Linked DNA regions of Homo sapiens: all the other regions are linked to region 3. The links come from fine-mapping of genetic effects on gene expression. A gene starts in region 3. Each other region holds a variant in brackets. All regions are shown on one strand. Distances are from middle to middle.

Region 1 (5,426 bases), 380 kb after region 3:
GTTCAAGCGATTCTCCTGCTTCAGCCTCCCGAGTAGCTGGGATTACAGGTGCCCACTCCACGCCCAGCTAATTTTTGCATTTTTACTGGAGATGAGGTTTCACCATGTTGGCCAGGCTGGTCTCAAACTTTTGACCTCAGGTGATCCACCCGCCTTGGCCTCCCAAAGTGCTGGGATTATAGGCGTGAGCCACCACGCCCAGCCAGGCATACCATTTTCAAACTGCAGAAAATCAAAGATAAGAAAAGAGTCTTGAAACAAGCCATCAGAAACAAAAGACACCTATATAGGATCAAAGACAAGAATTACACTTGACTTCTCAGAAACCAGGCAAGCAAGAAAAAGGTGGAGTGAAATATTTAAAGTTTTGGTAGAAAAACAACTTCACCAACCTAGAATTTTGAATCCTATAAAATTATCCTTCACAAGTGAAGGAGAAATAGAGACTTTCTTGAATAAACAAAAATTGAGAGAATTTATTGCCAGAAGACTAGCTTTGAAAGAAATGTTAAAAGTTATTCAGAGAGAAGGAAAATAATATAGATTAGACACTTGGATCTACATAAAGAAATTAGAGAAAGAATAAGTAAACTAAAAGCTTTTATTTTTCTTATTTGTAATTGATGTAACATATAATGGTTTGTTTAAAAAAGAATAGCAACAATGTATTCAATATATATACTTCTGTATTTATATGCTTATATATAAGTAAAATAAATGATAGCAATGTTGCAAAGGACAGGATGGAGGAATTCAGATTATTTTGTTATTTTAAATTACTTTCATTACCCATGAAGTGGTATAGTGTTATTTGAAAGTGGACCTGGATTGGTTTTAAACATATATTGCAACTTTAGGGAAACCACCAAGAAAAGATTAAGAAGGAATATGACTGATATATTAATAAAGGAGAGAAAATGGAATCATATGAATATTTAGTTATAACTACAAAAGGCAGAAAAAGTGTGGGAGACAAAAATAGAAACAGAACATGGGCAACAAATAGAAAACAGTTGCAAATGTGTTCAATGTTACCCACCTGTATCAATAATCACTTAAACATCAATGGTCTAAATATCGCAATTAAAAGACAGATATTGTCATAGTGTATCAAAAAACAAAACCCAGCCATATGCTTTTTACAAGAAACTCACATTAAATATAAAGACACTTGCAGGTTAAAAGTAAACAGATATAGAAAGATATGCCAGCCAGGTGCGGTGGCTCATGCCTGTAATCCCAGCACTTTGGGAGGCCGAGGCGGGCAGATCACCTGAGGTCAGGAGTTTGAGACCAGTCTGGCCAACATGGTGAAACCCTGTCTCTACTAAAAATACAAAAAACATTAGCTGTGCATGGTGGCGGGCACCTGTAATCCCATCTACTCGGGAGGCTGAGGCAGGAGAATCACTTGAACCCAGGAGGCGGAGGTTGCAGTGAGCTGAGAATGCGCCATTGCACTCCAGCCTGGGCGACAAGAGTGAAACTCTATCTCAAAAAATAATAATAATAAAAAAAATAAAACTAAAAATAAAGATATGCCATGCTACCACTAATCAAAAGAAAGTGGGACTATCTCTATTAATTTCAGACAGAGCAGACCACCAGGCAAGGTAAGGTATCATGGATAAATTGAATAATTACATAATGATAACGGAGTCAGTCATCCAAGAAGACATAACAATCTGCTATGGTCTGAACGTTTGTGTCCCTACCCCACCCTCCCCCTAACACACAATTTAAATGTTGTAATCCTAATCCCCAAAAAGAGGGTATTAGGAAGTGTGGCCTTTGATGGGTGATTAGGTCAGGAGGACTGAGGCTTCATCAATGGGATTAGCAGCCTTATAAGAAGACCCAATGAGATTCCTTCCCCCTTCCACCACTTGAGGACACAGCTGAAAGTCAGGGGCCAACAAACCAGGAAGAGGCCCTCTCCGGACACTGAATTTATCAGCACCTTGATCTTGGACTTCCCAGTCTCCAGGAGTATGAAATTAATGCCTGCTTATAAACCATCCAATGTATGCTTTTGTTATAGCAGCCTGAATGGACAAAGAGACAATCCTTAATGTGTATGCACCTACAAACAGAGCATCAGAATGCATGATTCAACAACTGATAAAGTTACAAGGAGAAACAGATAAATCCAATGTTATAGTCAGAGATATTTTTTCTTTTCTTTAAAATAGGAATAATACTAGTGCCTACTCAACAGAATTTGTGTGAAGATTCAATGAGTTAATGGGTGTAAGGGCCTTAGAATAATACCTGACACATTCTAAAAGCCTGAAAAATGCCGGCCATTATTGTTACTATTACTATTATTATTATAGTCTACACGGAACCATTATTATTTTTTATGTTTGACACACAAATCACTATACTAATCTGTCACCTTTGCTTTTCTTCTGTAAATCTAGTAAAAAGGGAGGAAGAAAGAGGAGTACAGAGATGTTATAAAACACAGATCACAGAGAGAAGCCATTTATTTTTCCACCGCTACCCTTGACATGACTGCTGCCGAACTGAAGGAAGAAAATTGCGGCGGGAAGAGATCAATAAAAATTATTCTTTTCCACCTTCTTTCCCTGCTGTTGGAATTCAACCTTTAGGCTAACATTATGGCAAGATTTAGGATGCAGAGGAAATGGGATTCTTCCCTAGTACCTCACTCATGTTGCCCTTTGTCCAGTCTTGGCAGAAATATTGCAGAGTAGTAGTTGAGGTGCCACAGTAATTCATGAGGAAATTAGAAAGGTGATATGGTTTGGCTCTGTGTTGCCACCCAAATCCCATGACAAACTGTAATTCACAGAGTTGGAGGAGGGGCCAGGTAGAAGGTGATTTAATCATGGGAGCCAACTTCCTTTTTGCTGTC[C/T]TTGTGATAGTGAGTGAGTTCTCACAGGATCTGGTTGTTGTAAAAGTGTGTAGCACCTCCCCCTGTCTCTTATTTTCCTGGCGGCCATGTGAAGACACGCCTCCTTCCTCTTCACCTTCTGCCATGATTGTAAGTTTCCTGAGGCCTCGCCAGCTATGCCTCGTGTACCGCTTGTAGAACTGTGCCTGAAACCCCTTTTCATTATACACTACCCAGTCTCAGGTATGTTGTTATACTAGCGCAAGAACTAACTAATACAGAGGGTAAACATAAATTTGAAGTAAGAAAGATGAAAAAAAGAGGGGTGCAATATATATTTGTTTATAATAAAGACAGTATCTTGTTACTTTTAAGGGAAACAAAATTCACACCTGGAGGAAGCTTTTGTTATTGTTATTGTCGTTGTTGTTGTTCTCTAATTTTTGTGCATGAAGGTTCATTTTGTAGACAGCAGTGCCCTTGTGATAAGAAGTAGGGAGGAGCTAACACTTACTGAGCACCTACTATGGGAAAGATGCCTAAGCTTAGCCATCCCCTGAACAAACCAGCAAGGTAAATTTTGTCCATTTCATAGATGATAAAACTGAAGTGCATCCAGGTTTAAGTCAATTGCTGAAATATGCATAGTAAGTAAATTGCGTATCTGGGATTCAAATCCAAACCTGTCTGATTTCCAAACTCTGATGTTCCCATACTACCTACATTTAAAAAAAATGTGTGCCCCAAAGAGAAATATAGAGTTCCCCTAGAAAGCCAGTGGGTGATATAAATTGCACTTCTTCATACACGATCAGCCATAGAATATGAGTTCTGGTCCCTGGTGCCTGGAGACTTCTGTACTTCTCAGAGCTCATCTCCATTCAGAACTCTTCAGGAATGTCAGGTTGACTCCTCTGAGACCATACAGATTGATACAGCAAAAAGAACATGGAGTTGGAATCAGACAGTCCTGAATTCCAGTCATTGTTTCATAATTTCCTTGTCCACAACTTTGGGCAAGTTTCTTGGGCTCTCCGAGCTTCAATCCCCTCCTTATAATTCTCTTTTCTAACTTCCTTCTTCCTAATCTCATGTGGGATACATAAGAGGCATCTTCTTCTTATCTTTGGTCAGTTCTCTTGTGTGAGTTAAATATTGCCACAATAATTATGTGTAACAATCCTCCAAATTCTATGGCTTATAGTTGTCTATTATTTTCATCAATCTGTTAATTGGCTGATGTCTCTGCTTCAGTGGTACAGCAGCTGGGGATATTTATCTCCAGATCTGTTTTTCTTGGGCTCAGATTGAAAAGTGAACAGCTATTGCAGGGATATTCTTCTCATGGTCATTGCAGAGGCATAGGAGGGCAAGCAGAAACATGTGAATCCTCTTAAGTTATTGAATCAGAACTGGCATACTGTTATTTATGCCCTATTCTATTGACCAATGCAATTCACAAGGCCAAGCCCCAAGTTAAGGGAGACAATGTACATTTTCTGCTCATCAATGGCGTGGCCAAAGTGTAGTTGCAGGGGAGGGTGAAGAATTGAGGTTGACAAGTCAATCCCTCTTAGAAACTACTACCACTAAGTTTCTAAGTAGTTTCCTTTATTGTTCTCAGGCTTACTATTCTATTTTACCAGGAACAGAATTCTTCAATTTCCTGACTTCTTACATAAAGCTTTCTGTATCCACATTTACCAACGATTTTCTCTTTTCTTTCAGTCCCGGATATGCCATTCAACCTGTCTTTTGAATTGTATTCCCTTCTTGCTGCTCTGGAAATTATCAATTATCTTCACTGCCTCCCATATACTCAACTTACACTTCTCTGTTGTCCTCATCTTTTGAAATACTGTAGTTCCCGCCCCCTCCACTTAAACAAAATATAATAAAAAACAAACCAAAAAGTTTATTTGACCCAACACCTTGCCTTTAGCAACTCCCCTACACCTCTCTTTCTTTCCTCAGTCAAGATTCTAGTTCTGGCATTTTCCTAAATTTCATTTATTCCTCAATATATTTAAATCTGGCTTCTGCTCCCCTCAATTTGCTGATAGTGTTCTCCAAAATATCACTGTAGATCATTCTTTCCTGAAATGCCCTTATTGTGCTTTACATGATTTTACACTTTTCCTGTGCTCTTCTTACATCATTGTATGTTGTTCCTCAATTTCTTTCACTGAATTCTTTCCCATGTTTGATTTTTAAAATGTTGTTTCCTGGGGTCTTCATCTTATTCATTACATTTTCTACAAATTTTCTAAGCTTTTCCCTTGGTTTTAATTATGTGTAAATGCCTCCAAAGCCTTTATCTCTTCTTTTCTTTTCTTTCTTTCTTTTTTTTTTTTTTTTTTGAGATGGAGTCTCGTTCTGTTGCCCAGGCTAGAGCGCAATGGCGCAATCTCGGCTCACCACAACCTCTCCCTCCCAGGTTCAAGCGATTCTCCTGCCTCAGCCTCCCAAGTAGCTGGGACTATAGGTGTGCGCCACCATGCCCAGCTAATTTTTGTATTTTTAGTAGAGACGAGTTTTCACTATGTTGACCACCCTGGTCTTGAAC
Region 2 (5,426 bases), 440 kb after region 3:
AAAACGTATAATCAGGATAGCCAGGGTTAGACTATTATTTTGATTAAGCCCTATAAACTAGCTGTAGCTGTCATTACTTAATACTCTCAAATAGGACTTCTACAATGTTTGAAAAATTCAAATTTATCACTGAAAATGTGCCATTTTGAACAACCATTTTTTATGAAATAGTTCATACATGCACAAAAGTATATGTAACATATAAAGAATAAAAGGTAGTAAATCCCTAGGTACTCACCATCCATGTTAAACGGAGCCATTATCCTAAATTATATTTTCAAACGTTTTACCCTATGTATATGACTTGTGCACCTTATTATACCATCAAATTTTGCATTATCTTGAAATCTGGTATATGCTTGCTTACCTTTTTTTCAGTATCATATTTAGCAGCAGACATTCCATGAATGAGATATGAACCTTTGCTTTATTAAGCCACTGAGATTTTAAGATTGTCTATTCCTACAGCATAACCTAGCATATCCTGAGTGATAAATATAGCCACTTTCGTTTTCTTAAAAGATGATGTTAAGAGCATATAAGAAAAAGAGCATAGGTAATAGGCCAAGGTAAATGAATTTAAGGCTGCAATTGCCTGAATCTTTATACTTGATAATTATAGTGACGTAATTCAACCAAGTTTAGCATTCAATCTCATATAAATACATGGTGTCAGATTTACAAATGAAACTTTTTTGACTAATGGAAGGGTATACCTGTAGCAACTCAGGAAAAAGAGATTCTAAAATTGAACTCAGACTGAATCAAACCACTGAAGAAAAATAGCTTTTAACACCATCAGCTTGCATCCCTTTGAGGCATTTGGGTGGGATGGCTACCTTGTTGTGCAGGCACCATCTAATGTTCTTTTTTGTTTTTGTTGGGTATGCTGAACTTCAGATCTAAACCATTTTGGAGGGCTTATCATAATACTGAGTCTCCTGGCTTCACAAGTCATTTCCTTTATAATATGAGGACTCCAGGGAAATCTGGCAGCCATTTCACTTTGTTTCTAACACCGAAGTAGAACACATTGAAGCCATATGGTGGCATCTGGTTTGTGAAAAACAACAAAAAATCAAAACAAAAAAACCCTAAGTTCATAAACATATTTTAAAATAAATTTGGATGGGGGCTTCAGAAACTTTTGCCACAATAGTAATATTGAAAGGGGAACTCTCTTGCTCCAGATTTCTTGGAAATAATTTTAATTCAAAAATTTTTTTGTTTGCTTTTTTGTTTTTAATACTAGGACGTGCCACTAGAGAAAGAAAATATGGAATATTCAACAGCTTAACAAGTTACTGTTTGCCAAGGCTTAAGGAGGGATGGGGCAGGACAAAAATGGGTGTGGCTATAAAAGGACTATATGAAGGATTTTTGTGGTGATGAAAGTGTTTTCTTACATGACTATATCAATGTGAATATCCCGGTTGTGATATTGTATTACGATTCGTCAAGATATTACCATTTTGAAAACTGGAGTATATGGGACCTCCCTGCATTATTTCTTACAATTGCATGTAAATCTACAATTATCTCAAAATAAAAAATTTAATTAAAAAAGACAAGAAATAGAAAGAAAGGAAAATATGTATAAACATGTATCTGATAAGGTATTTGTATCTAGAATGTACAAAAACCTCTTACACCTCAATTGCAAATAAACAATCCAATCAAAACATAGGCAAAAGATTTTTTAAAATGCTTCACCATCTTATGCCACCCTCTACCTCTCCCCAACTATCTCCACCACACTATCAATCTCACTCTCTCCTAGCCGTTTCTAATCCTGCTTTAACAAGCAGTTGCTGACTTTGCATTTCTTCTTCCTCCAAAATCGCAGAGGCCCTGACTTACTCACTGCTAAAAAAAAAAAAAGCTGGTGGGGGACTCTGTATATTTTTAAATGAAGAGTGTTGTTCTTACCTAAATCAATCTGGCCTGGTATATGACAACATAAAAAAACTCAAGGATACAGCCCAAAAACTCGCCAACCAAGCAAATAATTACACTGAACCCCCTTGGACACTCTGTAATTGGATGTCCTGGGTACTCCCAATTCTTAGTCCTTTAATACCTATTTTTCTCCTTCTATTTGGACCTTGTGTCTTTCGTTTAGTTTCTCAATTCACACAAAACCACATCCAGGCCATCACCAATAATTCTATATGACAAATGCTCCTTCTAACAACCCGACAATATCACCCCTTACCCCAAAATCTTTCTTCAGTTGAATTTCTTCCACTGTAGGTTCCCACGCTGCCCCTAACCCCACTCAAAGCAGCCCTGAGAAACATCGCCCATTATCTCTCCATACCACCCCCCAAAATTTTCGCTGCCCCAACACTTCACCACTATTTTGCTTTATTTTTCTTATTAATATAAGAAGACAGGAATGTCAGGCCTCCGAGCCCAAGCTAAGCCATCATATCCCCCGTGATCTGCACATATACATACAGATGGCCTGGAACAACTGAAGATCCACAGAAGTGAAAATAGCCTTAACTGATGACATTCCACCATCGTGATTTGTTTCTGCCCCACCCTAACTGATCAATGTACTTCATAATCTCCCCCACCCTTAAGAAGGTTCTTTGTAATCCTCCCCACCCTTGAGATTATATGGTACTTCTATTCTTACTTTTTTGAGGAATGTCCATGAATTTTTCCAGAAAAGCTGTCCAAATTTGTATCACACCCTTGATGTGACGGATTGCATTAATTGATTTTTGAAACTTAAACCAGCCTTGCATAGCTGAAATAAATCTCAGTTGTAATATAGTTCTTTTTATACATTGTTGAGTTTCATTTGGTAGTATTTTGTTGAAGATTTCTGCAACTATGTTTATGGGAGATGTTATAGTTGACCTTTCTTGTAATATTTTTGTCTGGTTTTGTTACTAAGGCATAAACAGGATCTTTATGCTGAAAACCACCAAATGCAGCTGGGACATATCGAGGAAAATTGAAATAAATCATGTGGCTTTGGATTGGAAGACTCAACATAATAAAAACAGTCAATCTTTTTCAAACTTTATCTGTATGATTAATGCAATTTCTACAAAAACACAACAGGATTAATCGTTTATATATATAATACAAGCTTATTTTAAAATGTATAAGAAAAGGCAG[A/G]TAAACTAGATAAACTAAAACAATTTTAAATATGGAAAATAATGTTGGAGGAACCACACTACCTAATTTTAAAACTTTCTATATAGCTACCGTTATCAGTATTAAGACTGTGGAATTGGTAGAGGGATAGGCATGTAGGTCAATGGAATAGAAAACAGAGTTCATCAATACACCTACGAAGTACTACTGACTGACAGCTGACAAACTTGCAAAGGCAATTTGAAGGAGATAGGATACTCTTTTCAACAAATATATTGCAACAATTGGACAATCATAGACATACAACGAACATTGACTTAAATCTCACATCTTACTCAAAAATGAACCTAAAATAGATGAATCATGGATCTAAATGTAAAATGACAAATGATAAAATCTTTAAAAGAAAAATGTAAGATTTTTGTTAGTATCTGAGGGTTTCATGAAAAGCTTAGAAATGACATTGAAAACAAGATCCATAAAAGAAAAGTGTTAATATGTCCCTCATCAAAATTTAAAAAGCTTCAATCTGTGAAAAACCCTGTTAAGAGAATGTAAAGACAGGCATACTGTATACCCAAAAAAGGACTGGTATCTAGAGTACATAAAGAACTCTCAAAACTCAGCGGTTAAAAAATAGGCAATCTAATTAGAAAATGGGCAAAAGAGTAGAATTTACACTTCACCAAAGGGGATATGTGAATGGCAAACAGACACATGAAGAAATGTTTAAAATTGTTTGCCATTAGTGAAATGCAAATTAAAACCACATTTAAATAGCATTACACGCTAATTAAAATGGATACAATAAAAAATACCTATAACATCAAGCACTTAAAAGTAAGCTGAGGAACTGGACCTCTCATACATTGTTGATGGAAATGCAAAATTTTACAGTTATTCGGAAAAGAGTTTTGCAGTTTCTTTTAAAGTTGAACACGTACTTACTGTACATCCTGGCAATTGTACTCCCAGGAGTGCAATTTAACCTGGAATAATGAAGTCCTATTAAATTGGTTTCTTTTGGCCGCTATAACAAATTATCACAAACTCAGTGGCTTAAAACAACAGAAATATATTCTCTCACAGTTCTGCAGAGGATAATAGGAATGTAAAATCAATTTCACTGGGTTGAAATCAAAGTGTTGGTAGAGCTTCACTTCCACCAGAAGTTCCATTGGAGAATCTGTTCTTCGATTCTTCCGGCTTTTGGTGGTTGCTGGCATTACTTGGTTTTTAGCAACATCACTCCACTATCCGCCTCCATGGTCACACTACCTACTCCTCTTCTTTCTGGGGCAATTTTTACTCTGCTTCCCTCTTATAAGGATGCTTGTGATTAGACCTAGGGCCTACCAGGATAATTCAGGATAATCTTCCCATCTCGAGGTCTTGAACTTAATCACATCTGCAAAGTATGTTTTGCCATATAAGGTAACATATTTAGTGGTTCTGGGGATTAAAACATAGATACCTTCGGGGACTGTTATTCAGCCTGCCACATTTATGTTCACACAAACTCTTGAATATGAAAGTTCATAGCAGTTTTATTCACAATATACCAAAGTGGGAACAATCCAAATGCCCTTCAATGGATAACAATAAATAAACTGTGGTATATTAATACAATCAAATACTACTCGGTAATAAAAGAAATTAAACTACTGATTCCACAATAGTTGGCTAGTTGGCATTAATATCAAACCATTATGCCAAGTGGAAGAAGCCAATCTCAAAATATATGATATTGTCTGATTCCATTTCTGTAAGGTTCTTGGAAAGGCAAGACGACGTGACAGAGACTACATCGGTGGTTTTTCTAGGTGTTAGAGGGGTGGGGAAGGTGTAACTCTAAAGTGATGGTGCCAAGAAGTATTGGGAGCGATGGAACTGTTTTCTCTCCTGATTGTGGTAATTTTTACATGTATCTATACATGTGCTAAAATTCACAGAACTAAGTATCAAAAATAAGTCAATTTGTTAATTTGAACAAATTTGGGCAGAAAGAATTTCTTCACAGAAACAGTGTGTACAAAGGACTAGAGGTTAAAGAGACTGTCACATTTATGTGACTTAGTAATGCTTTAATTTTGACTGACAGAGGCATAGAGCACAGGGACGTGGATGCAAAGAGAGGGAAAATGCTGGGATTTCAGTGGCTTTTTAATAATCATGGGATCAAGAGTGCAGAACATTGATACTAAAATTGTGTCTGACAAATCTAATGACTGACGATAATAAATTAATATTCTCATCTCCCATGCTGATTTCCTTGAATAACTGAAAGCTGGTGTCTGTAATAGGACAACCTG
Region 3 (5,426 bases):
AAGTGGAAAGAAAAGAAGAAAGAAGAAAAGAAGTGAGAAGGAAAAGCAGAGTGAAGTTATTATCACATTATTTTTTACAATTCACCTTTAAAGTGGTTCCTGATGCTTCCTCTTACTTAAATTTTTATTTAATATTAAACATATTTATAAACTATAGTTAATTAGCCAGTAGAAAGGCAGATGTTGAAAATACAGAAAAAAAAAGAAGCAGTGGAGCAAGGTCCATTCTCAATCCCCTTGAATAGAACAATTTATTCATTAACTATTTACTGAGCATTTTTGTGTTTGTTTTGTTTTTGTTCTTGTGGGGTTTTTTTTTTTGATGTGAAAAACACACAAAAGCATAACTACCCACTGACCAATTTTGCAGGAGGACTCATGCTAATGCTAATACATCAGGCTGAATTTTAGACAGAATGGTTGAAGAAAATAAATGCTGAACAGTCCACTTTAATATGGCAATTTAGTGAGGAGAGGCACTCTCTCCCATTTAGAGACACAAGAAAATATTGCTTCTGTGAAAATCTTCTTAACATGGAGATGTTAGTAATGATGCCAAATTTATGAAATGTTCTTAAAGAGGTCTGAACAAAGTTTGCTACATAGAACAAATTCAAAATAATATGTAATTATATGTTTTTCCAATATCATATACTTTTGAAAAATGCAAAATCTTGTGCTAAATGTAACTTTCACTTTCTTAAATCACTTTTATGTCAATATTCTTATGAAAATATTTCTTAAAATTAAATGATATTTTATGACCTGATATTCTCTACTTGTCATTTATTTAGATTGCAAGCTAAAAACTAATTAGAAAGACTATACTTTTGCTGTTAACTTTCTCAGAGGTAAAATATCACTTTTCTTTAGTGGTTTGTGATGCTATGAATGAATACTTTCCAGGTTGGGTATTTCCTGGCTGTTAAATATCAGTTAAGTTTTGGCTGACTTCACCTCCATCTATCAACCTCCCTGCCAATCATTTAACAGCTATAGAATAGGTCTCCTCACACAAATCCTTCAGGAAGAATTTCCATTGTGCACATTCTGACCAGAAGAAAAAATGCAGCAAATTTTTGGAAAGTGAATCATTTTTAGAGTTCTGAGCAAATTATGTTAAACTCAGGGTTTCTCACTGTCAGCACCATCACATTTTAGGCAGTATAATTCTTTCTTGTGTGAGGTCGTCCTTTGTCCAATAAGACGCTTAGAAGCATCTCTGTCTCTGCTTATTAAATACCAGTAGCATTCCCTGCTGCCACCAATTATGACAACCAACAATATTTCTAGATATTGGCAAGTATCCCCTAAGTGGCAAAATCTCTTCCAGTTAAGAACCACTGAGTTAAGAACAGTAAGTAATGATCCAGGGAAAATGGATATAAAGATATTAAAAAGCTAGTAAAGCATTTGACATATTAGAAATGCATATAAACAATTCATATTTATAAAATAAAATCTACTGAAGATATAATGAATAAACACTTGTTTTGGTGAGCAAGCTTGGGATTGCAGCTGTGGGCCTGGAAGTGGTAGGAGCTGCAAAGCCTGCCCAGGATTAGCTGTAGCCAGAGCCGGCAGCCAAGACAATAGCAAAGATCAATTTGACCTCAAGATATAATCAAATATGACAGCAGAGTGAATGAAGCTTTTATTTTGCTCCGTTCTTCTCCATAATCCTTCTTATGCCCATAATCATTATAATTACATAAAATATTTAAAAACCTTTAAAAATTATTTCTTGGAAACCATGAATATGGCAGACTAGAGGCATTTTGTACTCACTTTCTCCATTAAAAATAACCAAACGGTGAGTCGATAATCACACTTTGAATATATAATTCAAAGGAAATCACTGGAATCCATTAGAAAAGTGATAGGCAATACTTAAAGCAGAGATGGAGAGGGAATCAAGGCAGCCTGCTCATCCAGGATCAGCTGTGAGCTGAGAGACTCCAAATACAGAGAAAGGATAGGTGAGAGAGCCTCAGTAGTTTACATTCTCACTATAGACTCCTATAATCCCAGCCACAGGAGATCCCTTCAACCATCATGGGCCCCGAAACTAACATAGAAAGCTGCCAGGAGATTGTATGATGGCACTGCTTCAGGGAGAAAGCTCCCGCTGGGTCCCTCACACTTCTTGAGACTTAAGCAGCTACAACAAAGTACCATTTTAGAGCCCTGCCCTCAACAGACTGAGCACTGTCCTGGAGCCCAGTAGCCCAGGGCTGAGGTGCAAGAGAAGCACGAACTGCTGCCCCAGGGACATAGGCATCAGTGACTACAGACTACAGCATCTGGTGCAGAGGTGGGACGAAGGCGTGGGCTGCTGCTTTTAGGACTGAGGCACAAATGAGGCACCACTGCAGAGCCTCACCCCCGATGAACTACATACTGTCCTGGAGCCCAGTGGCATTGAGGCCTAGGTGCAAACTAAATGTCTGATGTTTCCCTGGAGATTCAGACATGAGCGACCACAGGCTACTGCAACCAAGGGAAAGACATGAACATCAAGGCTGGGCAAGATAGCATCTTAGAGCCTCACCCCCAACAGACTGCACACTGTCTTGGAGCCAAGCAACACTGAGGCTGAGATGCAAAAGAAGAGCTGGCTGTTAACCTGGGGCTTAGACATGAGCATTCATGGGCTACCACACCTGGGGCTGAGGTGGGAGCACCACTGGGGATAAGGCATATGTGGCACATGTGTTTTTCACCCACTGGCCTAGACTGCCATCACTGAAGGTGGCATCCAACACCCAGTGGCAGGGCAGCAGCATGGCCACTGCCACCCTGTCTTTACCAAAGAGATAGAGACCATAAAAAAGGAACGAACAGAAATTCTGGAGCCAAAGAATGCAGTGAATAAACTAAAAAATACACATGAAAGCTTCAACAATATACTCAATCATAACTGACTTATGTTAAGATCACATTTTGCTTGAAGACAGTTTTTTTTGAAATAACGCTGTCAGACAAAAATAAAGAAAAAAAGAAAATAATAAAATAAACCTTTGGAATCTATCTAACAACATAAAGTGACCAAATATAAAAATCACTGATAGCCCAGAAGGCAAAGAGAGAAAACATGTTTTCAAAGACCTATTTATTGAAATAATAGATGACACTTCCTAAGTCGAGCAAGACACTTAGACATTGAGATACAGGAGGCCCATCAATTCCTAAACAGATACAATGTGAAAAGGTCTCTTCCATAGCACATTACAGACAAAATATTTAAAGTTTTTTTTTTCTTTTTTTCCAAGATGGCAGATTGGAAGCATTATAAGCATACTTATCCCACTTGGTAAGACAAAATGGCATGTAGAGATTCATGCTGTAAAATTTATTCGAAGAAACAATGTAAGAACTTAACAGAAAAACTGAAAGAAACCACAGACCCTTTGAATGAAGTGGCAGGCAACAGACTACATCATAAAACAGATGGAAAACCATTAGTCCCCAGAGCATGAGAGAGGGATAGATTGCTGTCATGACATATACTCCCACAGGCGAGCCAGGCAATACAAGTCATGAGGGAGGACTTCAAACCTACTCAGCTCTAGAGGTGATTCAGTGAAAAGTAAGGAATATATAAGAAGGAGCAGCATCGGGACATGCTTTGTGTGCAGACCCAGATTCCAGCAAGAATGGAGGGAAGCCATTCCTGATCCCACCTCACGGGACGTTGCAGAAGTCTAACTCAGGCTGCAGTCACAGTTTGAGAGAAGAGCCCAACTGGGATTTGTGATATAATCCTTAGTAAGGACAAAGCTGATTGGCCAGAACCGAGGGGCAAGTGAGAAGTGTGCTACGGCAACAAGGCACATGAGCTGCATGGCCCTGCTTCACAGGTGGACTGGAAAGGATGCAGCCTGAAAGATATGGTTTCTGTGTCCATAGGGAAAGCTTATGGCCTGGGATGGTTTTAAATTCTGAGCACGGGCCACTTGAAACCCAGTTAGCTGCTGCTGCTAGCAGAACACTGTGGGTATGAAAACTGACTTGCCAAGTGTGTGGGAGCTGAGTGGGGCTTATTACAACCTGCTGCCTCCCACTTTTCAGGCAGATTTTTTGTGCAGCAGAGGCAGCTGTGTTCCTGCCTGGAACATTACCCCACCAGCCAGGGAACTGCCCTCGGATCCCCACTGGGGCCACTGCTTGCACCTGCACATGGGGAGCCAGAGTGCAGACTTGCCTGACTCAGTTTAATAACTTCTGAGGCACAATGAAATCATCCCAATGCCTCCATGTTCAATTTCAGGCACTAACAAGTCCCTGAGGTATTAAATGCATTGCTTTTCTGCGGTCTTGCCACCTTCAGGAGCTTACTAAGAAAATGAAGAAGAGCCACGATCACTCCTCTCAATTAGCCTCTTCCCTTGGCTGAGAAATGTGTTTCCGGTCTTGAGAACACAGAAGTTTTGCATTTGCTCATGAGAGATCTGAAACCTTCTGACACTGCCCTGCATCTTTTCCATTCCCTCTAAATAGAGAAGACTCTTCTCCTGTCTCCTACCTTCTGCTCTGACATCCATTCACTAACACCTAGGCACAAAAAGCCTAGTTCACCCAATGGCAGAAACGGCTAAGGTGGGCCTCTTCCAAGCTATGAACAACATTTCAAAGCTTAAGTCCCTACCCTCTTCCAACACAATGTCCTTTTCATTCCTCTAGCTCAGTAGTGCTCAGATTGGGGGTGATTTTGCACCCCATCCCAAGAAGACATTTTGCAGTCTGGAAATATTTTTGGTTGTCACAACTGGGATGGCTCTTGGTGCTATCGGCATCTATTGAATAGAAACTAGGAATGCTGCTAATCATTCTAAATTCAGCAAGATGACACCCCCTCAAAAAAGCCCACAGAACTATCTGTCTCAAAATGTCAATAGTAATAAAGGTGAAAAACCCTGTAGCTCATTCCTTAATAGGCCACCCAAAGAGATTTTGGATGTTTTCATTTATAAAATTATGCATATATTTTGGCAAATCAACAGCTGTTTCTCACCACTGATGGTTAGACAAGGGAAAGAATAAGGAGACTGATATTATAATGAGCTCATTCTATGCCAGGTACAGTGCTCAATACTTCAGATTTATATTATCACATTTAATCTGTTAAAAATGTCCCAACATGTAGTAACAAGAGTTATTTTTATTTTACAAAGTTAAAAGAAAACTGAATTTTGAACAAATTGAAAGATCGATTCAGATTACAGCATCTGTAAATGGCAGAGCAGAAACTTACTATTAATGATCGCATGGCTTCAGAGCTGATGCCAGCCATCTCAATCTCACAAAGATCTCCGCATTCACTCATCTTTTACCCTCAAGCATTGTCTTACGTAGACATTCCTGACTTATTCCAATGGAAAGTCAAAAACAGAAATTTGATATTCAACAAGGAATATTATGTAGGA
Region 4 (5,426 bases), 480 kb after region 3:
AATCAACTTCAAATATATTTTCTGTCTTCTCTAAGTGCATTTAATATGATTACACACATGTTAAACCTGCTTTATATTGTCCTGCAGATTTCTAAGATTCTGATTTTTTAAGTTCTTTTTCTTTCTCAAGTGCAGTTTGGAGAGTCATCTATTGTTGCACCTTCGTCTTTTATTCTGCAGTAACTAAACTGCTTTTAAACCCATCTTCTAAATATTTTGTTTCAGATACTGTATTCTTCATCTCTACAACTTCTTTTTGTTTCCAACTTAAACCTCCCATTTACCTCTTCATAGTGTGCATGACTTCCTTCAAATATTTGAACATATATATAATAATTATTTAAAATTGTTTTTTAATACAGTAATTTTTGTCATTTCTGAACATTTCCATTGGCTGATTTCTCTCCTGGCTATGTATTTCTTCTTTTACTGCTTTGCATGGTGAAGAATATTTGATTGAATACTGAACATTTTATATTGTTAAATATCAGAATCCCACTGTGTATCTTTAAGAAATGTTGAACTTAGTTTTGTCAGACAGTTAAATAACTTTCACATCAATTTTGTTAGGATGGATCTAAAGTATCCTTTACTTTAAGTCTAGTTTCACCTCTACTAAAATGTGATTGTCCAGAAGTTGCCTGAATGCTCCAGTTTTTCAACAAAGTATCTCCACTTTGACTGGTTAGAATTTGAATGACTTCCAGCCCTGTTGTATGCTGTAGGAATAGTTCAGTTTACAGCTCTCCATAAGTGCTTTACCCAGCATCATGACGTTTCAGCTTACACATGCACATTTTAGTATTCAGCAACATTCTCAGCAAAACTTCTGTGAAGATTTCTCAAATTCATTCTCTCTGTAGCTCAACAATCTTGTCTCCAGAACCATTTCCCACAAATTCCATATGCATCTGCTTCTTCAAACTTTAACATCTGTATTTCCAACTGATAAAGATTGTTATGTTTTGCTTCTTGTCTTCCATTCTGTGCCACAGTCTGAAAGTACCTGTGATATGATTTGGCTGTGTCCCCACCCAATTCTCATCTTGAATTGTAACTCCCAGAATTCCCATATGTCGTGGGAGGAACTTGGCGGGAGATGATTAAATTATGGGGATGGGTCTTTCCTGCGCTGTTCTCATGATAGTGAATGAGTCTCACAAAATCTGATGGTTTTAAAAACAGGAGTTTCCCTGCACAAGCTCTCTTTGTGCTTGCCACCATCCACATAAGATGTGAGTGAGTTGCTCCTCCTTGCCTTCCACCATGATTGTGAGGCCTCCCCAGCCATGTGGAACTGTATGTCCATTAAATAAATCTCTTGTAAATTGCCCAGTCTCAGGTATGTATTTATCAGCAGTATGAAAATGGACGAATACAGTAAATTGGTACCAAAAGAGTGGGACATTGCTGAAAAGATACCTGAAAACATGGAAGTGACTTTGGAGCCAGGTAACAGGCAGAGGCTGGAACAGTTTGTAGGGCTCAGAAGACAGGAAAATGTGGGAAAGTTTGCAACTCCCTGGAGACTTGTTGAATGGCTTTAACCAAAATGTTGATAATGATATGGACAATGAAATCCAGGCTGAGGTGATCTCAGATGGAGATGAGGAACTTGTTGGGAACTGGAGCAAAGGTGACTCTTGTTATGCTTTAGCAAAAAGACTAGTGGCATTTTGCCCCTGCCCTAGTGATTTGTGGAACTTTGAACTTGAGAGAGACAATTCAGGGTATCCGGCAGATGAAATTTCTAAGCAGCAAAGCATTCAAGAGGTGACTTGGGTGCTGTTAAAGGCATTCAGTTTTAAAAGGGAAACAGAGCATAAAACTTTGGAAAATTTGCAGCCTGACAATGCAATAGAAAAGAAAATCCCATTTCCTAAGAAGAAATTCAAGCAGGCTACAGAAATTTGCATAAGTAACAAGGAGGCAAATGGTAATCCCCAAAACAATGGGGAAAATGTCTCCAGGGCATGTCAGGACCTTTGCCACAACTTCTCCCATCACAGACCCAGAGGTATAGGAGGAAGAAGTCATTTTGTGGGCCTGGCCCAGGGTCCCTCTCCCTTGTGCAGTCTAGGGATTTGGTGGCCTGTGTCCCAGCTGCTCCAGCCGTGACTAAAAGGGGCCAAGGTACAGCTCAGGATGTTTCTTCAGAGAGTGGAAGTCCCAAACCTTGACAGCTTCCATGTGGTGTTGAGCCTGCAGGTGCACAGAAGTCAATAATTGAGGTTTGGAAACTTCCGCCAAGATTTCAGAGGATATATGGAAACATCGGGATGCCCAGGGAGAAGTTTGCTGCAGGGGCGGGGTCCTCATAGAGAACCTCTGCTAGGGTAGTGCAGAAGACAAATGTAGAGTTGGAGCCCTCACACAGAATCCCTACTCAGGCACTGCCTAGTGGAGCTGTGAGAAGAGGGTCACCGTCCTCCAGACCCCAGAATGGTAGGTCCACTGACAGCTTGCACCATGTGCCTGGAAAAGCCACAGAGACTCAGCACCAGCCCGTGAAAGAAGCCAGGAGGGGGGATATACCCTGCAAAGCCACAGGGGCAGATCTGCCAAAGGCTGTGGAAGCCCACTTTTTGCATCAGCGCATCCTGAATGTGAGATATGGAGTCAAAGGAAATGATTTTGAAGCTTTAAAATTTGACGGCCCTCCTGGATTTCAGACTTGCATGTGGCCTCTAGCCCCTTTGTTTTGGCCAATTTCTCCCATTTGGAATGGCTGTATTTACCCAATGCCTGTACCCCCATTGTATCTAGGAAGTAACTAACTTGCTTTTGATTTTACAGGCTCACAGGCAGAAATAACTTGCCTTGTTTCAGATGAGACTTTAGACTGTGGACTTTTGAGTTAATGCTGAAACGAGTTAAGACTTTGGGGGACTGTTGAGAAGGCATGATTGGTTTTGAAATGTTAGGACATGAGATTTGGGAGTGGCCAAGGG[C/T]AGAATGATACGGTTTGGCTGTGTCCCCACCCAAATCTCATCTTGAATTGTAACTCCCAGAATTCCCATCTGTCATGGGAGGAACCAAGTGAGAGATTATTAAATTATGGGGCTGGGTCTTTCCTCCGCTGTTCTTGTGATAGTAAATGAGTCTCACAAGATCTGATGGTTTTAAAAACAGGAGTTTCCCTGCACAAGCTCTCTTTTTGCCTGCCGCCATCCACATAAGATGTGACTTGCTCCTCCTTGCCTTCTGCCATGATTGTGAGGCCTCCTTAGCCATGTGGAACTGTAAGTCCATTAAATCTCTTTCTTTTGTAAATTTCCCAGTCTCCAGTATGTCTTTATCAGCAGCATGAAAATGGACTAATACAACCTCCGAACAGAATGTTGAGGCAATTGTATACCTCACCACGTTTATTTATCTTATGCCCTGGGTCAAAGTCCTCTATTGTCTATTATCTAATATCTGAAACAGCTGTTTGATATTTCATCTTTTTCTTTCAGTTTTCTAGTTGTTTATGGCTAGGTGGCAAATCTGAAATCAGTCATTTCACCAGGGCTGGAAGGTGAAGTCTAATACTGACATTTTGAACGATTTTTATATTTCTTTTATTCTTATTTTTTTCTGATTATAAAAATAAATATGCTTACACAGGAAAAGTACAGATGAATAAATAAAAGAAATTTAAATCACCCAAAGATAACTAAAATATAATTTTAATCCTTGTCTAATTTATTTCTATGTCCGAACCTAGGGTAGTTCGATTATATGCAGAGCTGTTTTATTCATTGTTAATCCTGCAATCAGCTACCCAGGTGCCTACCAGAGACACCTGTTTTTACAAATGTGAAGGAATTTTTCTGAAGGAAGTGTCTCCTTGTGGTCACTATTGCCATTACAAATGAGGGAGGGATTGTGGGAGAGAACTGTTGTCAGGGGCAACCTGTCCTTTCTGTTTCCGTGTTTTTTGAAAGCTCTTCTATTCCCTGTCATTTCTCTTGTATGGAATTGCCCACTGATTTTTATCTTAGAATCTGGGGATGTAGTGTATTCAATAATAGATTGTAAAAGAAGTATATCCTCTGTCACCTCTGTATTTCTGCACAATTAAGAAGTAGAATAGAATTATTCAATAATATATATCAAATTGCATGAAGGCATTATGCTCCCTTAAAAGAGAAAACTGTTGTTTCTTCAGATAATTTGTATCAGTGGTTCCTAAATATGGGTACAGATACTATCCACTAAAGAAGTAAATTTCTGTTCCCTACCCTCATCCCTTGCCTGAAAGATTCTGAGCAAGATACAAACATTTCTCAAATTTTCAAGTTAGATTACATTCAATTGAAATTAATTTTAAGACTTGAAGATCAAGGTCACATTTAGTGTAATTTTCAAAGAAAGTTATCAAACCGAATAGGACGACAATGGCAATATTTATACTGTCATAGGTGACTACATAAACCAGATCAACACTTCAAGAGGCAAGTTTAACAGTGGGGTTTTATATAAATTTGGTGAAGATTTTGAAGCTGCCAGTATACAATGTGAGGTCTTAAAGTATATACACCAGACAGCAAATAATATGCTTTATCTGAAATTAATTATGAATAAATGCTCAGGATCAAATGTAAATTTTTCCCACAACACCTAATGTACAGAATTGTTGTGTTTCGTTTTTTGAAATCAAATCAAATGTGGCTCCAAGACCTCCACTTGTCAAATATGGTGAATAGTTTATTGAATCTCTATTTTTATTCATGTCTTTCTCCTCATTTGGTTGCACCAGGATTGAATAGCGCAGGGCAGTAGATTAGAGGCCTTTCTGGTAATCATTCCATAGTCACTGCTGAGGATGTTGCCTAAATTTAAATGCCTAAACTTAAATGCTCTTAAAGCTATGTGGTGCTACTGGTGCTATAGTTCCTCTAAGTCAGAATGATCTGAAGGACCCTTAGCATTTAACATGGTCTTTGGTGTCATCCACACAGGTATACTCATTTCAATACACCAATACCTCTAGGATGCTTCATGGGATTTGGGCACAAGTCTCAACCACTTTGCCAACTCACCTTTCTCCTTTCCACTCCTAAAAGATTCACCTTTCAGGCCGGGCACGGTGGGCTCATGCCTGTAATCCCAGAACTTTGGGAGGCCGAGGCGGGCAGATCACCAGAGATTGGGAGTTCAAGACCAGCCTGACCAACATGGAGAAACACTGTCTCTACTAACAATACAAAATTAGCCAGGCGTGGTGGCGCATGCCTGTAATCCCAGCTATTCGGGAGGCTGAGGCAGGAGAATCGCTTGAACCCAGGAGGCGGAGGTTGCAGTGAGCCGAGATGGTGCCATTGCACTCCAGCCTGAGCAACAAGAGTAAAATTCTGTCTCAAAAACAAAACAAAACAAAGATTCACCTTTCCCTCTCAGTCTCCTGTTAAGCCATGTCTCTCTGCTACCTCTAAAGAAAG
Region 5 (5,426 bases), 720 kb after region 3:
AACTACCTTTTCATTACATTGATTTTCCTTAGTATATTTTTGTTTTCTATTTCATTCATTTTTGCTTCAGTTTTATTATTTTCTTTATTCTGTTTATTTTGGATTTAATTTGCTCTTTTGTCTTATTTTCTAAATATAGAAGCTAAGGCCATTGTTATGAGACCAGTCTTTTTTGTCTCACTCTGTTGCCCAGGCTGGAGTGCAGTGGCACGATCTCCATTCACTGCAACCTCTGCCTCCTAGATTCAAGCGATTCTCTTGCCCCAGCCTCCCGAGTAGCTGGGATTACAGGCGTGCACCACCATGCCTGGCTAATTTTTGTATTTTTAGTAGGGATGGGGTTTCACCATGTTGGCTAGGCTGGTCTCGAAATGCTGACCTCAAGTGATCCACTGGCCTTGGCCTCCCAAAGTGATGGGATTACAGGTGTGAGCCAATACACCCGGCCGAGACCAATCTTTTATGATGTAGAAATTTTAGTGCTATGAATTTACCTCCAAATATTTTTAAATCTGGGTCCCACAAATTTTGGTAGTTTGTCTTTTCATTCTCATTTAGTTCAAAATATTTTCTAATTGTATCTTATTCTTTCCTTGATCCATATCCTCTCCAGAACTATGCTATTTAGTATTAAATTACTTGGGAACTTCTTAGACATTTTTTTCTGATATTAATTCCTAGTTCAATTTCATTGTGGTCAGAGAATGTACTTTGTATGGCTTCAATCATTTTACATTTATTCGACTTGTTTAATGATCCTCTATCTGGTTTATCTTGGTAAATGTTCTGTGTGTGCTTGAAAACACTGTGTATTCTACTGTTGTTGTGTCATGTGTTCTACCAAAGTCAGTTAAGTCAAGTTGTTTGATATTGTTTTTCAAGTCTGTATATTTTACTGATTTTTTGTCTGCATCTTTTATCATTTATTAAAAGAAGAATGTTGGCATATTTGACTATAATTGTGAATTTGCCCATTTCTCCTTTAAGTTTTGCTATTTTATTCAATGTTGACTTTGAAGCAGTGTTATTTTGGATACCTAAATATTAAATATTTAAATTCTTATATTTCCTTGGTCAATTCTCCCTTTATCAGTTTACAGTGTCCCTCATTTTGCATGTGATATTCTTGCCTCTGAAAGCTACCGGATCATATTATACAGGTATTCTAGCTTTGTTTTGAAATAATGTTTCCTCTTTGCATTTAATGTGGAAATTACTCTTCTAATGTTTTCAATGTTACAGGTAGCTTTAATTTGCTAAGGTGGCCATAATAAAATACCACAAACTGAGTGGCTTATACATCATGTATTTGCTCACAGCTCTGGAGGCTGTAAGTTTATTATCAAGGTGTTGACAGGGTCGGTTTCTTCGGAGGCCTCTCAGAATCTACCATGTCTCTTGCCTAGCTAAATCAGTGATTTTCTGGCGGACACTGGCATTTCTTGGCTTTCAGAAGCATCATTCCAATCTCTGCCTTTGTTTTTATGTGACATTCTCACTGGGTCTATGTCCAAATTTCCCCTTTTTATTAAAAGGCCAGTAGTATTGGATTAAGTCTTGCCCTAATTACTTCATCTTAGCTCATTACTTCTACAAGAACCTTGTATTAAAATAATGTGACATTCTACAGCACTGGGGGTTGAAACTTCAACATATTAATTTGGGGGAACAAAATTCAACCTGTAGTGTTGGTATTTTCTTCTCAGTGTCTAATCTGCTATATATCCCATTCAGTTTATTTTTCATTTCAGACCTGTAATTTATATCCATAGAAGTTTGATTTTGGTATGTTTTATATCTTTCATATGTTTACTTAACATGTTCAACCTTTCCTCTTATTTATTGAACATATATAATATAGTTAGAATACCTGTAGCTTTTTTTTTTTTTTTTTTTGAGATGGAGTCTTGCTTTGTTGCCGAGGCTGGAGTGCAGTGGCACTACCTTGGCTCACTGAAACCCCCTCCTGGGTTCAAGCGATTCTCCTGCCTCAGCCTCTCGAGTAGCTGGGACTACAGGCGCCTGCCACCACGCCCGGCTAATGTTTTGTGTTTTTAGTAGGGACGGGGTTTCACCGTGTTAGCCCGGATGGTCTCGATCTCCTGACCTCGTGATCTGCCCGCCTCAGCCTCCCAAAGTGCTGGGATTACAGGCATGAGCCACTGCACCCAGCCGTCTGTAGCCGTTTTAATGTTCTTGTCTACTCATTCTATAGGTGCCATTTTCTGGTCTCTTTCTATTGAATGGCTTTTCTGCTCTTATTTTCTTTCCTTCATGCGTGATTGGTAACTTTTTATTTGATGTCAGACAATGTGGATTTTACCTTTTTGGTGGTGTTTTTCTTCTCCTAATATTATTTTCACACTTAAATCTGAGATGCTTTAAATTTACTTGGAAAAAAAAAACATTGATTCTTTCAAGGCTTGTTTGTAAACTTCATTAGACAGAACCAGACTAGCTATTAATCTAGGACTATTTTTCTTCCACTACTGTGGCGATACCCTCTGACGAACCTACCTAATATCATGTGAAATACAAGGCTTTTCACTCTGACTTGTGGGAAAAAGAAATGTTTGAGCTCTAAGAATTGTTTTTTTCTGCTGTTTACAGATAGTTGCTTCTCCAGCTTCAGTTAGTTTCCTCACATTCATGCACTGATTCATGCTCAACTAAAGCTGAGAAGGACCTTCAACAAATCGCTGCAGTTATCTTATTTTTTGTGCAGCTTTCTTTTCTCTTGTATTCTTCCCTGAAAATTGTAGCTGTATTTCCCTTTTTGGACTCCTAGCTCTGTCTTCTCAACTTAGGGAGGCCACTGGATTCCATTTAGGTTCTCCGTTTCTTTTTATTTTATTTATTTACTTATTTGTTTATTTTGAGATGGAGTCTTGCTCTGTCGCCCAGGCTGGAGTGCAGTGGCCAGATCTCAGCTCACTGCAACCTCCGTCTCCAGGGTTCAAGCAATTCTCCTGCCTCAGCCTCCTGAGTAGCTGGGACTACAGGCGTGTGCCCCCACACCTGGCTAATTTTTGGATTTTTAGGGGAGACGG[G/A]GTTTCACCGTGTTAGCCAGGATTGTCTCGCTCTCCTGACCTTGTGATCCCCCCACCTTGGCCTCCCAAAATGCTATGGGATTACAGGTGTGAGCCACCGCGGCCGGCCTGAGTTCTCCCTTTCTATGATGTAGCCTGAAGTCTCCTTTCAGACAGTAAGCCAGGACAATCGTAAGGGTTCACTTTGTTTTCCCTCTGTAAGGAATTATTTTCTCACACTACCTAATTTCTAACGCTTAAAAAACATTTATATATATATATATGTATATAGTCCAGTGTTTTTAGTTGTTTCTGCCAGGAAGATAACTCCATTACAAGTTACCCCATCTCAGCTAGACAGTTCCTAAGAGAATACATTATTGGCCGGGCATGGTGGCTCATGCCTGTAATCCCAGCACTTTGGGAGGCCAAGGCAGGTGGATCGCCTGAGGTCAGGAGTTCGAGACCAGCCTGATCAACATGGAGAAACCCCGTCTCTACTAAAAATACAAAATTAGCTGGGCGTGGTGACACATGCCCGTAATCCCAGCTACTCAGGAGGCTGAGGGAGGAGAATCACTTGAACTCGGGAGGCAGAGGTTGTGGTGAGCTGAGATCACGCCATTGCACTCCAGCCTGGGCAACAAGAGTGAAACTCCGTCTCGAAAAAAAAAAAAAAGAATATATTATTATATAACTTTTTATTATGAAAATAATATTTTCTTATAAAAATTTCAAGCAGTGCAGATGTATATACAGAAAAACTTGCATTTCTACCATTCTCTCCACCCTCTATTCTCCCAAAATTCAACTGAATTACTGGTCCTCAAAGGAAACAGCTTGCAATTGGTATGCTCACTTACAGATAATTTTATATTCATTTAAATATATATACAAAGATTCATAATATAGTCATATACATATATGCAAATATTAAAAATACATAATTATATATTTTTTAAACAGGGTCTTGCTCTGTCGCCCAGGCTGCAGTGCAGTGGCATATTCTCAGCTCTCTGCAGCCTCAACCTCCCAGGCTCAAGCAATTCTCCCACCTCAGCCTCCTGAGTAGCTGGGACTACAGGCATGAGTCACCACACCTGGCTCTTTTTTTTTTTTTTTTTTTTTTTTTTTTTGTAGAGAAGAGTTCTCACTGTGTTGCCCTGGCTGGTCTCGAATTCCTGGACTCAGGCAATCCTCCTGCCTCAGCCTCCCAAAACGTTGGGATTGCAGGCATGAGCTGCTGCGTTTGGCCTACATAAATATTTTGACATAAATGAGATATTAAGTACTTTTGTAAATTAATTTTCTTGTCTAATTCTGTATCTTTGTTTTTCCTCTATATTTGCCATACATATCTATGTCAATATTTTAATTGTCTGCATATAACTTCATAGTATGGATACATCATTTTTAAATGTAGGTATTTCTCTATTGATGTACAAATGTTTTTCACCAGTTTTTCTGTTTAACAAATGTTACAATGAACATTTTTGAATCATATGTTTTCGTGCACATGTGTAGCATTTCTAAAAGGAAAATTCTTAAAAATTTAATGAGCATTTTAAAGTTTGCTAGAAATTGCCAAAATATCCTGCAAAGTACTTGTACTTTGTTCTAACAGTATTAGGATTTCCTATTCCCTCATGATTTTTGTTGTCAATCCAATGGAAGAAAATTGCTTCTTTGTTTTAATTTATATTTACTTTACGAATAGTAAAGTTGAATATCTTTTGTTATCTATTTGTAGTTATTAATCTGTGAATTGTTGCCATATTTTTCTATTGGGTTGTTTGATTTTTTATTTATAGAAAAAATTTGTATAGTCATTTGTTTGTTATACATATCACAAGTATTTTCTCCTAATCTCTTCTTTATATTTTAACTTTGTATAAGAAATAATTTGCCGTATAGAAATAGTGCTGGAAAACATGTCTTTTGAGAAAGAACATACCTTGTTCTATTTTTTTCCGCTTTTGAAAATTCCATCTCATCCACCAGCTGCAGGACAAATCACTGAACTAAATGTTTAACTGGTTTTGAGAAAGAGAAAAACAGCTTCTGACATTCACAAGCTATGCCCAGTTGTTGCTAGGAGCTGGCTTGGCACTCACAGCTAGGCCTTGGTATTACTCTATCAGGAACATCAGCATTAAATGAGGCCGCTGTGTGACCATGACGGATGAAGGCGAAAACAAGACCGCTCTGCAATCATGTCTGAACACAGACAGAACATGGACATTGTGCAAGTCACAAGAATGACCAGTTATCTCACTATTCTGAATAATATAAGTTGCTGGGTTTTTTTCTTTTACCAATTACAAGTCTACCCTTGCTTTAGACTGCCCTCACAATAGATAAGGTGTATTAAGATACCTGATCATCATATTACCCCGA
Region 6 (5,426 bases), 710 kb after region 3:
ACTTATTGATAGATATCTGGATAGTTTGAGGTTGTTCATTATAACAAACAAGGCTAATATGGGAAGCCCTGTCCATAATTGCTTTGTGTGAGTCTTCCAAGACAGAAAGCAAGGAATACCAGTTTACATTTCCACATTCAATTCATGACGGTTTCTCTTTGTTCATATCTTCTTCAGTCTGTTTTTTTTTTTTTTTTTTGGAGACGGGAGTCTTGCTCTGTCACCCAGGCTGGAGTGCAATGGCACGATCTTGGCTCACTGCAACCTCCACCTCCCGGGTTCAAGTGATTCTCCTGCCTCAGCCTTCCGAGTAGCTGGGATTACAGGCATCCAACACCACGCTCGGCTAATTTTTGTGTTTTTAGTAGAGATGGGATTTCAATATGTTGGCCAGGCTGGTCTTGAACTCCTGACCTCAGGTGATCCACCCACCTCGGCCTCCCAAAATGCTGGGAGTACAGGAGTGAGCCACCACGCACAACCTCTTCTTCAGCCTTTAATATCATCTAACTTTGAAAACATTAGCAATTAAAATATTATTTTATTTTATTTTATTTATTTATTTATTTTTGAGATGGAGTCTCGCTCTTGTTGCCCAGGCTGGAGTGCAATGGCGCCATCTTGACTCACCGCAACCTCCGCCTCCCAGGTTCAAGTGATTCTCCTGCCTCAGACCCCCGAGTAGTTGGGATTACAGGCATGCACCACCACACCCGGCTAATTTTGTATTTTTAGTAGTGACGAGGTTTCTCCATGTTGGTCAGGCTGGTCTCGAACTCCTGACCTCAGGTGATCTGCCCACCTCAGTCTCCCAAAGTGCTGGTATTACAGGCGTGAGCCACTGCACCCAGCCAAAATACAATGTGCATTTCTCTGATCCTTGGAGGAGGTTGGGCAGCTTTGCCTACATTTGTGATCTTTTTCTTCCCCCTGTGGATTGCCATATTCTGCAGTCTTAAGTATTTGGCTCTGTGGTTAATCTGGTTAGCCATTGTCACAGTGTTACACTGTAAACTGCTAATAGTTGTGTGATAATGGCAAGCTTCTTCCCCCAGACAAATTTTAGGGTCAATGTTACTAGACTGGCTTGACCACCAAAGTGTCCTTGGAGAATGGTTATAGAATTATAGGAACTCATGTCTGGAAAGAACAGAATTTTAGCTGTCATTTAGTCCTACCCAACCATCTGATGTGTAAACCCTGTCTTCAAAATCTTAGCCAAACATTCAACTAATGCTTCAACTGTCAGCCTCCTGAGACAGCCCACTCCATCTGTGGATAATTCTGTTGATCATAACAGTCTTGCTTGTATTAAACCAGATCTTGTTTCCTTGTAGTTTCTACCCTCTGCCTTGAGCCTCAGAGAACAAATCTGCCTCCTCGTCCACAAAACAGCCTTTCTGATATGTAGTGACAGTTTCCATAATAATCGAAGTCATCTTTTCTTCATGTTAAGCATGCTGGTTCCCATAAGTTATCCTTATATGATGAGATTCTGAGGGGGTTTTCGGTCACTTTGTGATCACATTCTGTTGAATACTTACTAGTTTATCCCTTTTTAAAAAATGCATCACTGAGTTCAGTGTCTTAGAGTAAGCTGAATAATAATAATAATAATAATGGAAGCTAGCCTTTATTGAGTATCAAGTAGTGTGCCAAGCACTTTACTTGTATTAATTAATTTAATCCTTACAACATGACTAGGAATGAGGCATTTGAATCCCCATTTGGACAATAAGGAAATTGAGGCACATGGAAATTAGGTAATTTACCTGTGACTGCACTGAGTGGAGTGGAACTAGAATTTCTCCTATTACGGTTATCATATTTCAGTGTATATGTCCCTAAGATTATATGATTTTTAACTCTAATTGATTTATATTAACTGTCAACTCAAACCCCCAAGTCTTATTTGAATGTATTACTGGTAAGCCACCACTTCCCATCTTGTACATTTGAGTTCTGAAGCCAAGTCCAAGTCCTGGAAAACTGCACTTGACCTCACTGAATCTATTATAGTTTGTAGCCCACAGTGCTTTTCAAGACATCTTGCTCATCCCATTTCTCTCCCCTGATATAGTTAGCTGGCTCTCTTCTGGTAGTGCTTGACTTCACACTTCACACTGTCATCTATAAACTATATACTACATGTTTTCAGCTTAGCTATAAGTGGATGAGTTGCTTAATTTATTTTACTTTCCTTTTGTGTTTGCATGCAGAAAGTAGCTTCCCAGAATAAAGAGCAGTGAGCATTTTCCCACAGTTGTATGGTGGTTATCTACTCAATTGTCCCTTCCTGCTCAAAGGATCAAAAGCATTTACCAATTTGTTATACGCTTCATGTAACAGTTGTTTGTGTTGCTTTCAATTTTTTTTTTCATCAGAGATATGCTTGAAAATGATACTGTGCACAGGACTTGTCAACTTAGTTTCTGCCTTTCTAGTTAAGAAAAATGTATGTTTTAGTTTATTAACTATAAAATAAAATGCTCCTTCTTCTCTTCCTAGGCTTAAATGG[A/T]ATAATTAGTTAAAAAAATCAAGAAACTATCTTATACACATTTCCACTATATTTTTCTACTTTGAATCCGAAAGTAAACTGAGTGGTATAGTGAAAAGATCAAGGGATGGGGCTTGGTGAGTTCATGGGCAGGAGACCTGGTTTCCACTACTAGTTTTCTCATTATCTGGCAGTATGAATTGCCAGAAGTTTTTTCTCTTCTCTATGCTGTAAAATCTGTAAAACGAGGGGACTGGAATAAAATGAGGTAAGACACTTCATTACTTAAAAATTACCTTGAATTCAATATAAATGTTATATAGCTTGTTCTCTTCCAAAATATTAAAATGGCTTTGTATGGGTGCTTTGTAAACCTCTCCCCAAGCTTTATTTAAAAAATATTTCTGGATATTTGTCTAGAAGAAACATTGCCTATTAAAACTTAGAGGACAAAACATTCTGAGCATTACTTAGTGCTGGGTCATATAAAAATAGCAATAACATTTGGCTCATTTTAGATTTTTTTTTTTTTTTTGAGGTGGAGTCTCCCCTTATCATCCAGGCTGGAGTGCAATGGCACGATCTCGGCTCACTGCAACCTCCACCTCCAGGGTTCAAGCAATTCTCCTGCCTCAGCCTCTTGAGAAACTGGGATTACAGGCACATGCCACCACACCCAACTGATTTTTTGTATCTTTAGTAGAGACGGGGTTTCACCATGTTGGCCAGACAGATCTCAAACTCCTGACCTCGTGATCCACCCGCCTCAGTCTCCCTAAGTGTTGGGATTACAAGCGTGAGCCACCACACCTGGTCTTTAGATTTTTTTTATAGCCTAAATTCTTATATGGATGGCTCTAGGCAAATCAGAGAGGTACTTTCACATTTTTGGCATTTAAATGGGAGTCAGAGGCCCCCAACCCTGTGCTTCTACCCCATAATCTATCCTCTGAAGGATGAGCCCCCAGGAATGCTGGGAGCCTCTCAAAATTCATTCACACACCTGCACAATCAGCCACCAATTTATTAAAAAACAAGTTTCTGTGAAAATGCTCATTTGCTTTCTGTGTCTGAAAGAAAAAACATCACATGAAAAACATCTGGGAAATATCTTCAAACTTATTTGCAAATATATTTGTGGAGATTTTTAAAAGACAGGCTGAATTGTTTCCTTTTTTAAAGGCAACGTAGATTTAAAAATAATTTTGTAGTAGCTTATGGGTATAAACGAAGATATCAGTGAAGATAACATTTATTTATATGCATTTTTAAATGCTATTTTCCTGCTTGTTTTCGCCTTGTGCTTTATTGTTTATTTATATTTTCAATATGTTATACTGAGGGGAAAATATAATGTTTTTCTTTGCACTAAGTCTATGGGTACATTTATCATTTAAAATATAATAACTTTAAAATAAAAAATTAGAGAACTTTAAAATATATATATGGATTTTTGCTTTGTTTTTGTTTTTTTTTAATTGTCCTCAATAATATGTTTGCAAAAGAATATAACTGGCCGGGCGCAGTAGCTCATGCCTGTAATCCCAGCACTTTTAGAGGCCAAAGCAGGCAGATTGCATGAGCTCAGGGGTTCAAGGCCAGCCTGGGCAACAGCCCATCTCTATCAAAAATACAAAAATTTGCTGGGCATTTTGGTGCGCATCTGTATGCAGTTCCAGCTACTCAGGAGTCTGAGGTGGGAGGATGGCTTGAGCCTGGAAGGTGGCGGTGGCAGTGAGCCCAGATCATGCCACTGCACTCCAGCCTGGGTGACAGTGAGACCCTATCTTAAAAAAAAAAAAAAAAGAAATAGAATACAATCAATGCCAGCAATATACATCATGGCAGAAGTGAAATAATTTGTATTTATTTGTCCCCATGATTTCTGGAAAAAAAACTTTTTAAGGAGATAATGAAATCATAAAACTTAACAATACTTAACATGTTAATCTAAGTATGTTTTTTTTTGTTTTTTTTTTTTTGAGGAGTCTCGCACTGTCTGCTGGGCTGGAGTGCAATGGCACAATGTCAGATCACTGCAACCTCCGCCTCCTGGGTTGAAGCGATTCTTCTGCCTCAGCCTCACGAGTAGCTGGGATTACAGGTGCCTGCCACTACATCCAGCTAATTTTTTTGTATTTTTTAGTAGAGATGGGGTTTCACTATGTTGGCCAGGTTGGTCTCAAACTCCTGACCTCGTGATCTGCTCACCTCAGCCTCCCAAAGTGCTGGGATTACAGGCGTGAGCCACCACGCCCAGCCTAACATAAGTATCTTAACTCTGTTTTCATCAGAATATTAATTACTTTATTAAGGACTGGAGAAAAAGAAACTACTGCTAACATTGAACATAAGCTTAGTAGAAATGTATACATATAGATTATATAATATATACACACATGATACATATACACATTACATAGGAATAGATTAATATGAAGTTAAATAAACAGATTTTACCTGTTCAACTACCTAGTAGATTGGGAACTCAGAAGAAAACTGATGGGGAAAGGGTAGAACCTAGGCCTATCAAAGAGTAAATTAAGGCACTAATACCAATAATTACATACAATAATTATGATATGCATGGAACATATCTAATTACATCACTTTCCCACTCACCATCTCTTCTTTTTTTTTTTTTTTTTTTTTTTTTTTTTGAGACGGAGTCTCGCTCTGTCGCCCAGGCCGGACTGCGGACTGCAGTGGCGCAATCTCAGCTCACTGCAAGCTCCGCTTCCCGGGTTCACGCCATTCTCCTGCCTCAGCCTCCCGAGTAGCTGGGACTACAGGCGCCCGCCACCGCGCCCGGCTAATTTTTTGTATTTTTAGTAGAGACGGGGTTTCACCTTGTTAGCCAGGATGGTCTCGATCTCCTGACCTCATGATCCACCCGCCTCGGCCTCCCAAAGTGCTGGGATTACAGGCG

Which allele goes with the higher level. Positions count from the first base shown, and alleles are read on the strand shown. Sizes are in standard deviations (SD) of each study's normalised expression. Not every link is listed here.
With allele T in place of C in region 1, the expression in caudate of the gene that starts at base 2,786 in region 3 is lower (moderate effect, 0.52 SD a copy in GTEx).
For the expression in hippocampus of the gene that starts at base 2,786 in region 3, allele A in region 2 goes with a higher level than allele G (moderate effect, 0.62 SD a copy in GTEx).
In carriers of allele C in region 4, the expression in coronary artery of the gene that starts at base 2,786 in region 3 tends to be higher than with T alone (moderate effect, 0.65 SD a copy in GTEx).

The links. PIP is the estimated chance that this variant, and not a neighbour inherited with it, causes the effect.
Region 1: its variant is the best candidate, but not a certain one, in a credible set for the expression of MAGEC3 in caudate (GTEx, PIP 0.81).
Region 2: its variant is the best candidate, but not a certain one, in a credible set for the expression of MAGEC3 in hippocampus (GTEx, PIP 0.87).
Region 4: its variant is the best candidate, but not a certain one, in a credible set for the expression of MAGEC3 in coronary artery (GTEx, PIP 0.78).
Region 5: its variant is the best candidate, but not a certain one, in a credible set for the expression of MAGEC3 in cerebellar hemisphere (GTEx, PIP 0.79).
Region 6: its variant is the best candidate, but not a certain one, in a credible set for the expression of MAGEC3 in aorta (GTEx, PIP 0.88).

Annotation. Positions count from the first base shown.
Region 1 is chrX:141,460,036-141,465,461 of GRCh38, reverse strand. No RefSeq gene overlaps it. Among named protein-coding and RNA genes, the nearest start is that of SPANXA2-OT1, 40 kb to the left of the region's middle. The variant C/T (reference allele first, on the strand shown) is at 2,882.
Region 2 is chrX:141,392,317-141,397,742 of GRCh38, reverse strand. No RefSeq gene overlaps it. Among named protein-coding and RNA genes, the nearest start is that of SPANXA2-OT1, 110 kb to the left of the region's middle. The variant A/G (reference allele first, on the strand shown) is at 3,136.
Region 3 is chrX:141,835,676-141,841,101 of GRCh38, reverse strand. MAGEC3 (MAGE family member C3) reads right to left here and starts at 2,786. Exons shown (of 8, transcript NM_138702.1): 1 at 2,664-2,786. The coding sequence starts at 2,786.
Region 4 is chrX:141,359,019-141,364,444 of GRCh38, reverse strand. No RefSeq gene overlaps it. Among named protein-coding and RNA genes, the nearest start is that of SPANXC, 120 kb to the right of the region's middle. The variant C/T (reference allele first, on the strand shown) is at 2,952.
Region 5 is chrX:141,111,157-141,116,582 of GRCh38, reverse strand. No RefSeq gene overlaps it. Among named protein-coding and RNA genes, the nearest start is that of LDOC1, 63 kb to the left of the region's middle. The variant G/A (reference allele first, on the strand shown) is at 3,051.
Region 6 is chrX:141,123,171-141,128,596 of GRCh38, reverse strand. No RefSeq gene overlaps it. Among named protein-coding and RNA genes, the nearest start is that of LDOC1, 51 kb to the left of the region's middle. The variant A/T (reference allele first, on the strand shown) is at 2,519.